2 linked regions of the Homo sapiens genome follow. The protein of the gene in region 2 interacts with the protein of the main gene of each other region in a pairwise test. Each region holds a gene or a part of one and is shown on either strand. Other genes may lie near its edges. The genes, in order: TNS4 and KAZN.

Region 1 (7,655 bases), on a different chromosome or scaffold from region 2:
TATCACACACATGTGCGCTGAGCTAGTACACAAACCTGGTAAGCTATCACCTGTGAGATAAGCTAGCTGCGTGTGTAATCACACATTAGGTTCCCTGGAAATGAATCCAGTTTGACTCCAAGAAGAGCAGCCTAGAGGGGGCTAGGACCCTCCTCCTTCTCTCCCACCATCAGAAAAAAGCAGGGAAGTGGGGGTGGGGCTCGGGAAGGCAGAAGCACGCAGGCTTGCTGTGAAAGGCGTTTTTCAGGGTGCCTTGGGGCTGGAGGGCATCGGGGAGAACACTGGGGTGGACGCTTCTCCTAGGAGCTGTTATAAGACTGGCGCCATGTCACCCTGAAAGCTAGTGCCAGAGCCAGGACTGGAACCTACCACACCCCGCTGCCTCAGTGAGGCCTTGAGTGAGCACAGAGACAGACGCATACCTGGTCGACTCTGAGCAGACGCGGGAACCTCCTGCACCTTCAGGGCCAGGCCGAAGGAGCCTCGGTATGAAGAGCTGTCCCTTATGACAAAAGCCCCTGGCTCCTCCTTCCTCAGCAGCTCGATTGCTGGAACAATCCTTGAGTCAGAGATGGACACCGCCCCACCTGGACACCCTGTCCCCAGCCCCGTAGGGTCTTCACAGAGCAGATGTTACAGAGTCACCTTTTGTCCCCAGGAAGTCCTTTGTACTGTCAAATCTCCACCATTCTTGCTGTGGTTCCTACTTCCTCGGGAGGTCATGAGGTCAGCAGGACATCCCCCTCCCCCGCTTCCCAGGACCCACTATTTGCCATTCCTTAACTGTAACCCAGGGCCCTGCCTGATGCAAAGTGCAAGACCCAGACCCTATTCTGGGGTCACTCGTGCTTCCTTTTACCTTGCTCTCGGGTGATGTTTGGCTTAAACCAGTATTTAGATGTGTCCATCACGAACTTCATGGTGGGCTGCATGTCCCTGGCGGGACCTGGAGACAGACAGAGAAGGGGGACCCTGTAGGCTGGACAGACGGGAGCTGAGGGATGTTCACCAGAGAAGGCTGGAGACCCTTCCCTACTCTATTGCCCCAAGGTTTCATTCAACCACCATCCCAGACCCTAACCCCATTGTATCTCCAAACTGCCTACGATGAGGGAAAATCAAACAGAAGGATGCCAGGGTTTGGTGCATCTAGAACTCAGAAGTGCCCTTGTATCCTTGGTAATGAATAAGGAATGAATAGATACAACCTCAGTTTAAGGAGAAATGGTTTCTTAAATCTACTGTTGAGTCCCCTGGTGAGGACTGAAATAAGAGATAAACAAGGAATTCTCAAATGCATCATGTTTGATATTACATTCTCCTTCGTCTTCATAATCCTAAGAATTCCTTACGGGAATATTCAGCTTGGAAAAGAAAATGGCAGAAAACGTGAAGGAGAGGAAAATAGCAGATCTGGGCAGAAAAACATGCCCCTGGGAGGCGGGAGCCTGGATCTTGACTCTGATATGGGATAACTGAAGCTCAGAGGGGACCAAGTGGACTAAACAGCTTCTGAGGGTCTTTAATGTTCTAGTAGTCTATGGAATTAAAATGAATTTTGTTTTAGGAATATTTTGCAGAATTTGATAAGATCTGGGGGTATAGTTGGTGATATTATGGGACCAAAGCAGGATGGGAATATCACTAGGCTAAGTAAATGTGCGCTTTGGGATGCCAAAATGGCCATTTCCCTGGGTCCCTAAGGCAGAGAGCAGTAGCTGTCAACCTTGGCGGCTTGAAAAGGAGTGTTGTGACCACTTACTCTCAAGTAACTCATTCAAAAAAAGTACTAAAATCTGCAAATGATTTGTCCTAGGAAAGCGATCAGGGCAGATGCAAAGGCACGCCAGAAGTGTCATTTTCTCCTGCTTGCCTCCACATGGCTTCGTGAGTGGGAGTGAGCAGTGGGCTATAGTAAACATTCCACCCCCACCCCCTCTGGAGTCGCCTTGATGCCTGTGAGCGTCATGGCCAAGTGGGGGCTGAGAAGCCCCCCGATGGCCGAGGGAGGGGGAACAGGGGGTTGGCAGGGGACTCTGCTCATGGGAGAGGCATCCACAGGGTGCTAGAGCTTAGCTTCTGGGTTTACTGCTTGGGTTTGTTCTTCTTGGACGCCTGTGATCTCAGACTCCGGGAAGGAGGGTGTTTGCTGTTTTGTGGTTTTCGGCTGTCTGAACTGGAATGCATTGTCTCTATTACCCCATCCACCCCCTCTGTGTTCTCATCATCTGCGAACGTCAGAGTCAGAACTGACTCGCCCTCTTGCTCTCCTTGAGTTAGTCATCAAGCACATCCTGAGGGTCGCCTGGTTCTGTCCTCTCTCCTCCACTCCCACTGCCCTATCCCGGTTCAGGACCCTGCTATCCGTTGAGCTGCCAGGGTGATCCATTGAGCGAGCACCTCTGACCCCATCACTCTCCTGTGTGAGGAGGCTCTCTGATGGTACCCTATTGCTTAAAAGGCAAATTCCATTTTTTTTTTTTTTTTTAGCTTGGCATTTAAGGCCTTTCACAATCTGGTTTCAAATTACTCTCAATGACTTGAACCTGCACCCAACATTCCGGCATTTCCTGAACATGCCATGCGCTTCCACACCTTCATGACTGTGGACCCCCTGCTTTCTCTGCTGGGAATGCCTTTCCTCTCCTTCTCTGGCCACAAACTTCTGATCCATTTCCCAGATCCAGCTCGGATGTCGCTTCCTCTGTTCTCCAGACTGAAAGAATCATTCCTTCAGCTTTGGCCAATATGATTGAGAATATCTCTTTACCTCCGCGTTTATCCTACCCTACCGTGATGATTTGTTTTTGTCTCTTTCTAAACTGTTTCCCTCTGTGTGTCCTCACTACCTGGCATAGTGCCAGACACACAATAGTTGCTCAATAAATGTGTTGACTGGCTGTTGCAGAAACCCACTGGCACTTTGTCTATTCCCCAAATCTTACATTGCTTCAAATATTGGTTTACGACGTACCCTCTGGGCATGTGGTAAAGGGGGCATCTGACAGGGTCTGGCTGTTGCTCCTGGTGGCTGGACAGGGGTTGCTGGGAGAAGCAGCTCCAGGTTGAACGGAGTTCTGGTGTCCTGGGGTCCGCTGGGGTGGAGAAGACCCTGGTTCTGGGCAGCCGTTGATCAGCACAATGGGTATGTCCACCATGGAGTTGGTGATGGATGGGGGGCAGCTGCTGGCATGTTCTTTGGCCAGTGGTGGAGAGTGGGGTGTTCTGGGTTGGCCCATGGTTAGGGTGGGGTTTCTGGGAGCCTGGAAGTCACTGGGTCTTGTACACAGGGACACTGAGCCAAGGCTGTGGAGGCTGGAGGAAGAGTTGGCTGGACTTTCCAAGGATCTGGAAGATGACTGATGGCTGGAGTTGCTGGAGTGCAGGAGGGACTGGCTGCTGCAGCGGGAGAGAGTCAGACAGGGTGTTAGGGCAACAGGTGGCTCAGGGGCTAGAGTCAGGCTCCGGATCTGGTGATCTGGGTTCCCATGGCTTTAAAGGCCAAATAGAACACTGCATACCCCACCCCCTACAGCCCACAGCAAAGTGCATGCCCACCTAATCCTCAAGGGATGGTAAGGATACAGAAATGTCCTTGGATGGTAGGGTCTTTGGTCACTTAAAGTAGCCAATGAGCTGACCCCTGCAGGCTTTGGGCATAGGCTGGCCCACATTCCGTCTGCCTTCCCAGCCAGGCCGTTCTGACTGAGCTGTCGGATCAGGATCCCTTCAGGCCCCCATGACTCCCAGGAGCCCTGCAGATGGGCTGAACCTACGCTGGACCACACCGTGGCTGATGCAGAGGGAACTCCCCAGCTGCAGGAGAAGGCCAGCTTCACATCCAGCCAGACTTCTTCCTGAGCTCAGGGGCCTGTGCCAGTGGGCATGGCTGTGGAATCCCCAGCCTCTGTGCCAGGGACTGCCTTGGCCAGTGGCTTTGGAGGTGGAGTGGGAAGCAGAGTCCTGTGGTTCGGTCTTCCTGGGGCAGAATGGGTGCGCATGTGCCTGCAGTTCTGCTGTGAGGTCTATAGAGAACTGAGCTGGGATGATTGTGATTCCCAGGCAGGGCTGCCTCACTCCTTTGCTAGGTTTTGCCAGCAACAGAGGAAGGAACCTTTTTATTCCTAAATAGTTCATCTCAGGCCCCCCAATTCTATTTATAGCCCTGTGTTTTGGGGTTTAAAAAAACCTTCCTTGAGATGGGTTGTATGAGGGCTGGAAAGGATATAGATGAGCCTCATTAAGGCAACGGCTCTTTTACCAAAAGGTAGCTATAAGTCAAGACTTTTTATATTGAATTGTATTCTAAATGCTTGAGGACAGCTTGAGATCTGAAAGGCTGTAAAAGCAAACATTTGCTTCTGGTTTTGGTGCATGCCCAGATTTTGCTCAGACAGAGCAGGGTCCCTTTCAGTGATTTTAGGGGGTGCATGCGTGCGTGTGCCTGTGTGTGTGTGTGCAATGTTAGAAGCTACAGAACCTACCTTCCAAACATATAGCTGACATCAGACACTGGGCTGGCTGACAGCACAGAGATCCTGCTGCCCCGCTGTGGGGCCAGGCCTCCCAGCCGCTTCTCCAGTCTTGGAGAAGCCACCAGCGGGGAGCCCAAACCATGGGGGCTCGAGGCCTTGCTCCCCATGCAAGGGATTGAGATGCTGGGGGAATTTGGGGGTCGAGGGGAGAGACCCTCTGAGGGGGGCAGAGGGCGCTGGTGCCCCCTGCCCTGGTTCCCAGAGAAGATGAGGCTCTCACTGCTGCTTCGTGTCTCTCGGGGGACGTCTCTGGAAAGGAGGAGGCCACCACTGCGAAGGGAGCCGAAGGGCGGGGTGACAGAGGGGCTGGAGCAGTGCTGGGGGCCATCGTGGCACCTTGATCTGGCGGAGGTCACCTCGATGTACTTTATGTCTTTGGGGGAGAAAAGCAGAGCATTGGTGAAATGCAGGAGCCTGGACTCATAGAACAGAGAGGCTGGAAGTATCCTCAAGGTCATTCTGTCCCCCCTCTTTTATAGAGACGAGGACACTGAGGCCCAGAGAGGAGAGCCCAACTCCACCTTCAGGGCCCAGTTCCAGTCACCCTCCCTGTGACAACTTCCCTTGGGTGAGGAGATGCAGTAGGGGACCCAGGCCTTGGAATCAGACAGACCCAGGCTTCAGATCTGGCTCTGCCACTTATTTTCTGAGAGAGTTTGGCCAAAAGACTTCACCACCCAGGGCCTCAGTTTCCACACCTGTAAAGTGGGGCAACTGCATTCAGCCTTTTGGTGATACAAAAAGGATGAAGTGAAACTCATGTAGGCAGCACAGCACTGTTCCCGGCACAGACCAGGTGCTTAAAAACTGGGCAACTCTCTCCTTTGTCTGTGCCCTGTTCCTAGGTTGAAATGGCCACTTGATGGGTTGTACCAGTGACACTTTCTGATGCCTCTGCTACTCAGGATGTGTGAAAGTGGTTTCTCTGAGGCTGGGCGCGGTGGCTCACACCTGGAATCCCAGCACTTTGGGAGGCCTAGGCGGGTGGATCACCTGAGGTCAGGAGTTCAAGACCAGCCTGGCCAACATGGCAAACCCCATCTCTACCAAAAATACAAAAATTAGCCGGGCACCTGTAATCCCAGCTACTTGGGAGGCTGAGGTACAAGAATCGCTTGAACCCGGGAGGCAGAGGTTGCAGTGAGCCGAGATTGCGCCACTGCACTCCAGCCTGAGTGACAAGAGTGAAGCCCCATCTCCAAAAAAAAAAAAAAAAAGGAAGTGGTTTCTCTGTACCTGCAGTGAAAGCAGGGATTCTCAAGCTTGGTTACACACTAGACTCACCCCAGGCTGCGCCTTGTGCCAATTAGATTAAACTCTCCAGGGGGTGAACCCAGGCCTCAGTTTTGTTTGTTTTCCAGTTTTTCAGGTGAGTCCAGTAGACCATGAATGGCTCAGCAGGACCACATCACCTGGGCTCCACCCCTACAGAAACATAATCTGCATTTTAGCGAGGCCACCCAGGGCATGTGAATATGCAGTGGAGTCTGAGAACCCTGCTTTGGAGCAGGCACTCCCTGAGCACAGGGCTTGCTGCATTCTTGAGCTATGGATCTCCTGGGGATGGTAGCTGGTACACAGGGGTCACCCAACACACCCCAGGCTGCCGACGCGCTCCAGCGCTCTTTCCACTCCCTGGTCGGGGCATCCAGGACTCTTGGGATTCTGAGGCCTTGTTCCTCTCCCGAGGTCGGCCTTGCAGTGGGCTGCTCTGAGGTTCTCCCCAAGGTGAGGATGAACACCCTTCCTCCTGACCTGGGGGAAGGGAATTGTCCTTGGTGCTGTTCCAGCAAAGCTGGAGGAAGGTGGGGGTTAATGAGCCGCTCCTTTCTGAAGAGTGTGAGTCTTGCCTCTAGCTTCCTGGGATGGAGGCTGGGGAAATTGGGGAGAACGTGCACCCTCAGCTCCCACCTGCCTGGGGCCCTGGCACATGCACTGTTCCTCCCCATTATGACTGTGGAGCCCCAGCCTGCCCCAGCCCGCTCCTGGGTAGGGCCATCTGGCCCTGCTCACAGTTACTGCCTCTGTCTGAGCTTGCTTGGGCCACGGTGGGGGTGGGGAGTTACATCAGATGAGCAAGGGCTGGCAGCTGACTGGGACTTGCTGCTCAGCGGGTGGAGGAAGAGCCTAGCTTTGTAGCAAAACAAACCTGGGGTGAGTCCTGGCTTTGCTGCTTTTCAGCCAAGGGCATTGTGCAACTTTCCTAACCTCTCTGAGCCTCAGTTTCCTTATCTGCAAAGTGAGGATCTGAAACCAGTCTTCCAAGGTTGTGATGAGGATGAAATACAATAGCCGGGAGCCTGGCCCATGGTGAGGCTCGAGAGAGGAGCATTTCCTACCTGCCTGCTTTTTGGGGACAGTATTGGCCAAATGGAGCCCTTTTCTGGCTAAGGTGGGGATCTCTCTGCTTAGAAAGATGACTGCAAGAAGAGAGTGTTTGGGGCACTGCATTGTGGGCTCTGGAAGAAAAGAGATCTTGGAATGGGTTGGATTCTTCTGGAAGGCTGGAAAGCACAACTTCAATTTTTATAGGACTTTATAGTGTTTACACCCATAATCTCCTCTGAACCTTATAATAGCCCTTGAGCAGGGCAGGCATTATTTTTTACAGAGGAGGAAACTGAAGCTTGGAGAAGAGTGGGGATGGAGCTAACACTTAGTGTACAACGATGTTTCACAGAGACTGGTCTTTATTGAGTGCAATGTGCCAGGACCACTACGAACACATTGCTTGTATTAGCTCCTTTAACCCTCATGACAACTCTGTGGAAGTAGGGGATATTATTAATGCCCATATAACAGATGGGAAATCTGGAAGGCTCAGAAAGGTGAAGTGAGTTATCCAATGCTGCACAGCCAGGGAGTGTTGTTGAGCTCTGTTTAGGGACTGCTTCTTCCAGGATGAGGAGGGGCTCCTTGGGAACCTGCTCCAAGGCCTTGCCCTGTGAGAAGGTGCTTGGCTGCTTTGGGGAGGGTCTCTTGGCACAGTGAAGCTCTGGGCTCCCTACTCACTGGGCCATTGAAACATCCATCAGGGACCTTGCTGGGGTCACTGAGTAAGGAGAGCGGGAGGGGAGGGAGGAGCCCCGTGCTCACCTCAAGGTGGGTGTGGCTGGGGGG
Region 2 (7,655 bases):
CACTTTACATCTACATATAATTTTTAAACCACAGTCAGGGTTACACTGTGCCTGCTGTGTTTTGTTGTTTTTTGTTTTTTGTTTTTGCAATGGAGTCTTGTTCTGTCGCCCAGACTGGAGTGCAGTGGCACAATCTCGACTTACTGCAACCTCTGCCTCCCAGGTTCAAGTGATTCTCCTGCCTCAGCCTCTGGAGTAGCTGGGACTACAGGCGTGTGCTACCACGCCCACGCCGGGATAATTTTTTGTAATTTTAGTAGAGATGGGATTTCACCGTGTTAGCCAGGACGGTCTCGATCTTCTGACCTCGTGATCTACCTGCCTCCCAAAGTGCTGGGATTACAGGCGTGAGCCACCGCACCCGGCCGTGTTTTCCTTTTTCATTTGGCAGTAGGTGGTGGATGTTTTCCCGTGACAGGACTTTTTATTCATTGCACATATTCCAACATATGAATGGAGCGTCATTCCTTCAAACAAACTCTCATCAATAACCATTCATATTGCTTCCTAGTATTTAATTTTTCCAAAGTTTTTATTACAAAACTATACATGTTTACTAGGGAACTTTGAAAATACAGAGACATACAACAAAAAGAAAATAACCATATTCTCCCCAGCACAGAAAGGCAGTAACTATGAACATTTGTGTAGACTTATCACCTATTGTTTTAATGTTGTGTCCTGTCTCTATGGATGGATAAGCATTTTTTTTTTACATTCTTGTAATGATTTATAATATTGAATTTCAGCAGGGTCATTTCTAATCAGAGGTTTTGTTTTTTTGTTTTTTTTTTTGATTTTTTTTTTTTTTTTTTTGGAGACGGAGTTTCACTCTTGTTGGCCAGGCTGGAGTGCAATGGCGCAATCTCGGCTCACCTCAACCTCCGCCTCCTGGGTTCAAGCGATTCTCCTGCCTCAGCCTCCCGAGTAGCTGGGATTACAGGCATATGCCACCACCCAGGCTAATTTTGTATTTTTAGTAGAGACGGGGTTTCTCCATGTTGGTCAGGCTGGTCTTGAACTCCCGGCCTCAGGTGATCCACCTACCTCGGCCTCCCAAAGTGCTGGGATTACAGGCATGAGCCACTGTGCCCAGCCAGTCAGAGTTATATTTAAATACTTGTTGTTTCTCATGGTATTGAGTTTGTCTGTTTGGGTGTGTGTGTGTGTTTTTATTTGTTTTGTTTTGTTTTGTTTTGTTTTGTTCTGTTTTGAGTTGGGGTCTCAGTCTGTCACCCAGGCTGGAGTACAGTGGTATGATCTTGGCTCACTATAACCTCCGCCTCCCTGGCTGAAAAGATCCTCCTACCTCAGCCTCCTGAGCAGCTGGGACCCCAGGCACACGCCACCACGTCCAGCTAATTTTTTTGTATTTTTGGTAGAGATGGGGTTTCACCATGTTGCCCAGGCTGATCTCAAACTCCTGAAGCTCAAGCATTCTGCCCACCTTGTCCTCCCAAAGTGCTGAGATTATAGGCGTGAGCTACCACGCCCGGCCTGTTTAGGTTTTTATCGAACCCTCTTTTAGAGAGATTCTTTTCCCCTCTCAATTGAGTCTCTGTAACCTGAACTTTTCATATTTACCAGGCCTTGATGCAACGAACCATATATAGAAGAGTGGGGTTAGAAAATGTTGGTGGATGAACTTTTTTTTTTTTTTGGTCTGTGAGGGCCATTCCAGAAACAGCTTTCAGTGTATTAAGGAATGGAGCTGGGTTCCATTTATCCTACGAAAATAAATCACCCAGTTGCCCAAAGACGACTGCCGCTGTGTTGTTTACAATAGTGAAAAATTGGAAACAACCGCCATGCCCATCAGTAGGAGGTGAAATAAATTACGGAGCCTCCTTCTGATGAATCCCGCGCAGTCAAAAGGTACCGCAGGTCTCTGTGGAGATGGAACAGTCTCCTCCACAGCGAAAGTGAACAGGCATATCACAAATGCACACACCTCAAATGCACGCACCCCGTAAGCAAGCGGGTCTGTGTGTGTTTGTAAGTGTGGCTTTTCTGTATCCAGAAAAGAGTATTTAACAGCTGCTGTCTCTAGGTGGTGTCGATCTAGAAGAATGATGAGACAGGTCTCAGTCATTTTAGGAGGTGTATTTGTCAAAGTTAAGGACGCGCGCCCAGGAGACAGGTCTGTGCCTTTCTCCGAAGATGATTTTGAGGCCTCCAGATTTAAAGGCGAAAGGATATTGAGAAGCACACAGTTTCATGTAAGAGGGGGGCGGGGGAAAATAATCATTCGTGCCTTTGTCTGGCCCAGTGAATCTGCATTTTTACATAAGGTAACATAGACAGATGGGGAACATGCAGGAAATCGACATTTTTACATAAGATAAAGATAAATGAGGCAGGGGAACAATCAGATATGCATTTGTGCCAGGTGAGCAGAGGGGTGAATACTGTGTAAAGATAAGCTATCCATTTACATTGCCATGGTGAATTTTAACAGAAATGCTTTAGGGTAAATATCTCCAAGCTCGCCAGGAATTTCCTTGTGGGCAAAATATGAGGGAGGTGTGTAGCAGTTCATCTTATTTAGGAATCAAAACGGGGAGGCAGGTTTGTGTGACCCAGTTCCCGGCTTGACTTTTCCCTTTGGCTTAATGAGTTTGGGGTCCCAAGATTTATTTGCCTTTCACAGTCACGTGGGGTGATCTTCATTTACTGTTTTATTTTTTTCTGGGATAAGCTTTTCTTCTTTTCTTTTCATAGATTACTTTTGTAATGGGGGCAAGGGCAGAAAAACAAAAACGCCAAAAGCCACTTTGATTTTGAAGAGAATACATGGAGGGGAGGATGTCCCCACCACCCTCTGCCTCCCGGGGGTATGGCCTGCCCAGCCCCTGCCCCCAGCAGCCTCGTCCCCCAGCATGGCCTGCACTTGTGTGTTGCAGACTCGGACAGCCAGTGCAGCCCCACGCGGCAGAGCCTCAGCCTGTCGGAAGGCGAGGAGCAGATGGACCGGCTGCAGCAGGTGGAGCTGGTGAGGACCACCCCTATGTCCCACTGGAAGGCGGGCACCGTCCAGGCCTGGCTGGAGGTGGTGATGGCCATGCCTATGTACGTCAAGGCCTGCACGGAGAACGTGAAGAGCGGGAAGGTAGGCAACTCCGGGCCCCCTATGGGATGCCACCCATGCCCTCTGTGAGCTTTACGTACCCAGAAGCTGGCCTGCCCCCCACTCCTACCCTGGAGTCAGGAGAAGGTGCAATCTAGGAGCTAGCCAATGCAATCAGCCTCTGATGTACCTGCTCATTGTGCCTCCCTGGCAAGGCAGAGAGCCCTCAGCTGCCTCATCCTGACAATGGACCCAGGTTTCCTTTACCTGCCTAAGGGAAAGGGCTCCCTCTGCCTGAACAGGGATTCCGCCCCACATCAGAGTTGCAGAGGTTTCCATGTGCCCTGACCCCACTGTATGAAAGGTGGGCAGGAGATGGGGAAGGAGCCCCATGTCAACAGACCCCCTCTAGGGCAGGAACCCCGCCGGCAGCTGTCCCAGCCCCCATATGACACTCCCTCCCGGGGGCAGGTGCTGCTGAGCCTGAGTGACGAGGACCTGCAGCTGGGCCTTGGGGTGTGCAGCTCCCTGCACCGGCGCAAGCTGCGCCTGGCCATCGAGGACTACCGTGATGCCGAGGCAGGCCGCAGGTGAGCCCACCACGAGGGGCCCCGGGGGAGGAGAGAAAAAGTCATCCTGAGGCCTTTGGTCACACAGGTGGGGTGAGCGGGGCACTGTGGGCTGAACCAGGTGGTGGGGGACAGCAGGGTGTGACTAAGATGGTCCGGGGATGCCCCTGATGAGGGGGCTTGGGCATACCCCAGCCCTGCTCTGGGCCAGCCCCCTCCGTAGAAAGACAGACACATGGGGAAGACAAGAGGCCCCAAAGGCCCTAGTACACCCCCAACCAATGCGGGAACCTCACGAGCCCCCCAGCACTCCTCTGCCTTCCGGGACCAGCCCAAGCAGCTCTGCACACTGGGCCGCCATGGTGTCTGCTCCTGGTTCTTACCATACATAACAGGGTGAGGAAAAACGGTGCAAGGCAGAGCCGAGGCAGGCAGAGATCAAGTAGGCGTGAGTGGGCTTGGTGAAACCTCTCCCATAGAGGAGCGGGCCAGGTGGAGGGGGCTTCTCTTAGCAAGCATACCTGGGATGGCTGCAGGGCCTTCTCATCAGGTGTACCCCCGCAGGCCACCCACCCCCACCGCTCATACCACTCCTGCTCTGCCTCCGGCCTGCCTGCCTCTCTCCTGGCTTTCTGTGAGCAAAATTTGTTGAGCAGGGGCAGCTACAGGGTAAAGGGAAGGAACCCCCACCCCCACCCCGCCCCACCCCGTTCTGAGAATGTGGAGAGGGGAAGAACTCGCTTTGTAAATCTGACACTTCTGTTTTGCATAATTATGTCCTTCACTGGTTTCTCCATCATTTTTGTGTAGTTAGTTAATCAAACCTGGTGGTGTGTGCTGTAATTTGCAGAAGCAGCTTAGGGGATTTTTTTAGAAGCAGGGTTTGGGGTGGAAAATCGGCTGGTTTGGAAGCAGGAAAACCAAATCCATATGTGTGCAGGAGAGGGGCCCTCGGCATGACTCTAGGGTGGCAGGAAGTACTGAGGTGAGACTGGATCAGAAACTTAGGGAGCGACTCAGAGCAAGAAGGTGCCAGGCCTCATTGGCACCATCAGGATGCTGGCTCGTCTGAGACAGGGCTGGGCTGAGGGATGGGGAGGAGGGCCATGAGGGCAACCCCTGCTGGGCTTTCCTTCCTGAGGGTCCCAAAAACACCTTACACCCAGCACCCACCTCCTAACCAGTTCCATCCAGGAATCCCCTAAAGCCATCCCTGAATCCCCTCACCATCTTTGGTCACCCAAGTAGGAAATCCCTCCTGCCCCCTTACCCCACACCCAGCAGGGTCCATAAACACTGCCTGTGTTCAATGAACAGGGTGGGGATGACTGCTTCATCTTTCAAAAACTTCAGGAGTCTGGGCTACTGCCTGGGTTCCCCCTAAATGGGGATAAGCTTTTCTTCTTTTCTTTTCATAGATTACTTTTGTAGTGGGGGCAAGGGCAGAAAAACAAAAACACTAAAAGCCACTTTGATTTTGAAGAGAAGAAATGCATGGGGGGAGGACGTCCCCACCGTCCTCTGCCTCCCAGGGGTGCGGCCTGCCCAGCCCCTGCCCCCGACAGCCTCGTCCCCCAGCATGGCCTGCACTTGTGTGTTGCACAACACAGCCCCTAAATGGGGCTGTCTTAGTCTGCTTGGGCTGCCATAACAAAATGACACCATCTGGGTTGCTTAGACAACAACTTACGTCTCACAGTTCTGGAGGCTGGAAGTCCAAGATCGGGATGCCAGCATGGTTGGGACCTGGGGAGGGCTCTCTTCCTGGCTTGCAGAAGGCAACCTTCTTGCTGTGTCCTCACATGGGGAAGAAGGAAGAGGGAGGGGGAGAGAGTGATGTCTCTGGTCTCTTCCTGTAAGGACAATAATCCCATCATGAAGGGCACCCCTATGACCTCATCTAATCAGCTCCCAAAGGCCCCAGCCACAAATACCATCACATCGAAGGTTAGGATTTCAGCATGTGAATTGGGTGGGGGGCATGGCAGAGGGAAACATTTAATCCCTAACAGTGGCACCACGTTAACCTCCAGGAACCAGGAGTCTGTGGTCCCAGGGATCGTGGAGCCCCACCCTTAGACACCCCCAGGGCTTCCTGGAGGAGGCAGAGGACTTATTTTGAGTTTTCTACTCCCAGTGGGAATCTGGCCTGTCTCCAGTTTGCCACATGACCTTGCCCTCTCTGGGACTGTTTCCCACCTGAGAAGTGAAGGGAGTTAAATTAGGACAGTGGTTTTTAAACTTTTGAGGATCATGACCACTTTAAGAATCTAATAAGAGCTTTTGACACTTTCTCTAGAAAAAATACACAAAACTTCACAACTTTTCACTGTGTTGGGTTGGTGGGTGGGACTCTCTGGCCCACCCACTTTCAGGGCTCCATGGACTCGGGGGTAAGAACTCTAAATGAGTTCATCTTCGAGAACATTTTCAGCCATGACATCTTGTGTGACCATGGGCATGATGGCGTCCTCTCTGGGACTGGTCACCTTATCTACAAAATACCAATGACAAAACCCACCAACCCCTTACCAACCCATCATCACCTTATGGATATCATTTTATTTACCCTCACAACATCAATGCAGGATAGACATGCTTACTCCCATTTTAAAGATGGAGAAGGCCGGGTACGATGGCTCACACCTGTAATCACAGCACTTTGGGAGGCCAAGGCAGGTGGATCACCTGACATCAGGAGTTCGAGACCAGCCTAACCAACATGGTGAAACCCTGTCTCTACTAAAAATAGAAAAATTAGTAGGCGTGGTGGTGTGTGCCTGTGATCCCAGCTACTCAGGAGGCTGAGGCAGGAGAATTTTTTGAACCCAGGAGGCGGAGGTTGCAGTGAGCCGAGACTGCATCATTACACTCCAGCCCGGGCGACAAGAATGAAACTCCGTCTGAAAAATAAAGTCGGAGAAAATTAGATGCAGAGAAATCATGAGCATAAAGTCACACTACAAAAAACCTGACTTCAAAGTCAGTTGCCTTTCCAGTGTCCCATGCTGCCTTTGTGTTAAAAACAAGAACAATGACAGCTTCTACTACTACTATTTATAGAACACTAGGTGTGTCCCAGACCCTGTGTTAGGGGTTTTGCATTCTCCTCTCTTTTAGTCCCTACAACTCCATGAGGCAAGCGCAATTCTCCCCGTTTTACAGAGGAGAAAACGGAGACCCAGAGTTTCAAGGTCCCAGAGCTAAAAAGTAATAGAACCAGAACAGCTTCCCGTTTTCCGTGCTGCGCCGTGACCCAGACAATATCTAAATTTTGTGCCGTCCTCAGATTTCAGAGTCTAATCCGGCTCCAGTTCAGGGATGGGGCAGTGACAGATTTTATAAAATGTCTGAATTCCTTTTAAAATCATGCTGTTTTATTCAACTTGGGCTCTTACAATAAATAGCTCAAACCAACAGCTGGGAACGTATCGCCAAGCTGCGGCCCCATGGGGACACCCTTAATGAAAAGAGAACATTTCTGAAGGGCAGGAGCACATTAATTGTGGGCATGCAGATGGAGATTGCTGATTATGGATGGGCCCCTCTCGAGTAGGTTAAGTGGGGTGCCCCCTTTGCAGCTCTCCACCCCAACTCTTGTTGCACCATTGATTTGCTGACCAAACTCTTGCTTCAGAGAGGAGAGGAGGCCATTCTAGTCTTCATCAGTGACAAATCTGGCCCAGTGGCATCTGATTCAGAGGGCTGTGGGCTCCAGCTCCTGCCCGAGAGAACCGTCCTGTAACAAGGCTGAGGCCGGCCCTTGAGGGACTGGGAGGGGGACTGCCCCAGGACCTTTTCATCCTAGAAGGGAGGTTGTCTTGGGCCAGAAGTTTCCAGTTCAGGAGCTCCAGCTGGGCAGCCTCCAGGTGGACTGGGGCAGATGACCCGCTCACCCAGCACTGCTCTGTCATCCACACATTCGACTATGAGACAAACACTGGTGAGTGTGAACTCAGAGCCTGAAGGGGCCCTGGACATTCACAGATAAGCCACACCCCACCCTGCCCCCCAGGAGC

What was found.
Region 1: the proteins of KAZN (region 2) and TNS4 interact in binary tests that used the Homo sapiens proteins (3 or more experiments, as listed by UniProt).

The regions. Positions count from the first base shown.
Region 1 is NC_000017.11:40,484,062-40,491,716, forward strand, and holds part of TNS4 (tensin-4 precursor), read right to left. Parts: intron 4,909-7,655; coding exon 4,485-4,908; intron 3,400-4,484; coding exon 2,975-3,399; intron 947-2,974; coding exon 860-946; intron 549-859; coding exon 423-548; intron 1-422. UniProt on the Homo sapiens protein: Promotes EGF-induced cell migration by displacing tensin TNS3 from the cytoplasmic tail of integrin ITGB1 which results in dissociation of TNS3 from focal adhesions, disassembly of actin stress fibers and initiation of cell migration.
Region 2 is NC_000001.11:15,091,277-15,098,931, forward strand, and holds part of KAZN (kazrin), read left to right. Parts: intron 1-2,903; coding exon 2,904-3,109; intron 3,110-3,538; coding exon 3,539-3,657; intron 3,658-7,651; coding exon of another isoform or gene 7,652-7,655. UniProt on the Homo sapiens protein: Component of the cornified envelope of keratinocytes. May be involved in the interplay between adherens junctions and desmosomes. The function in the nucleus is not known.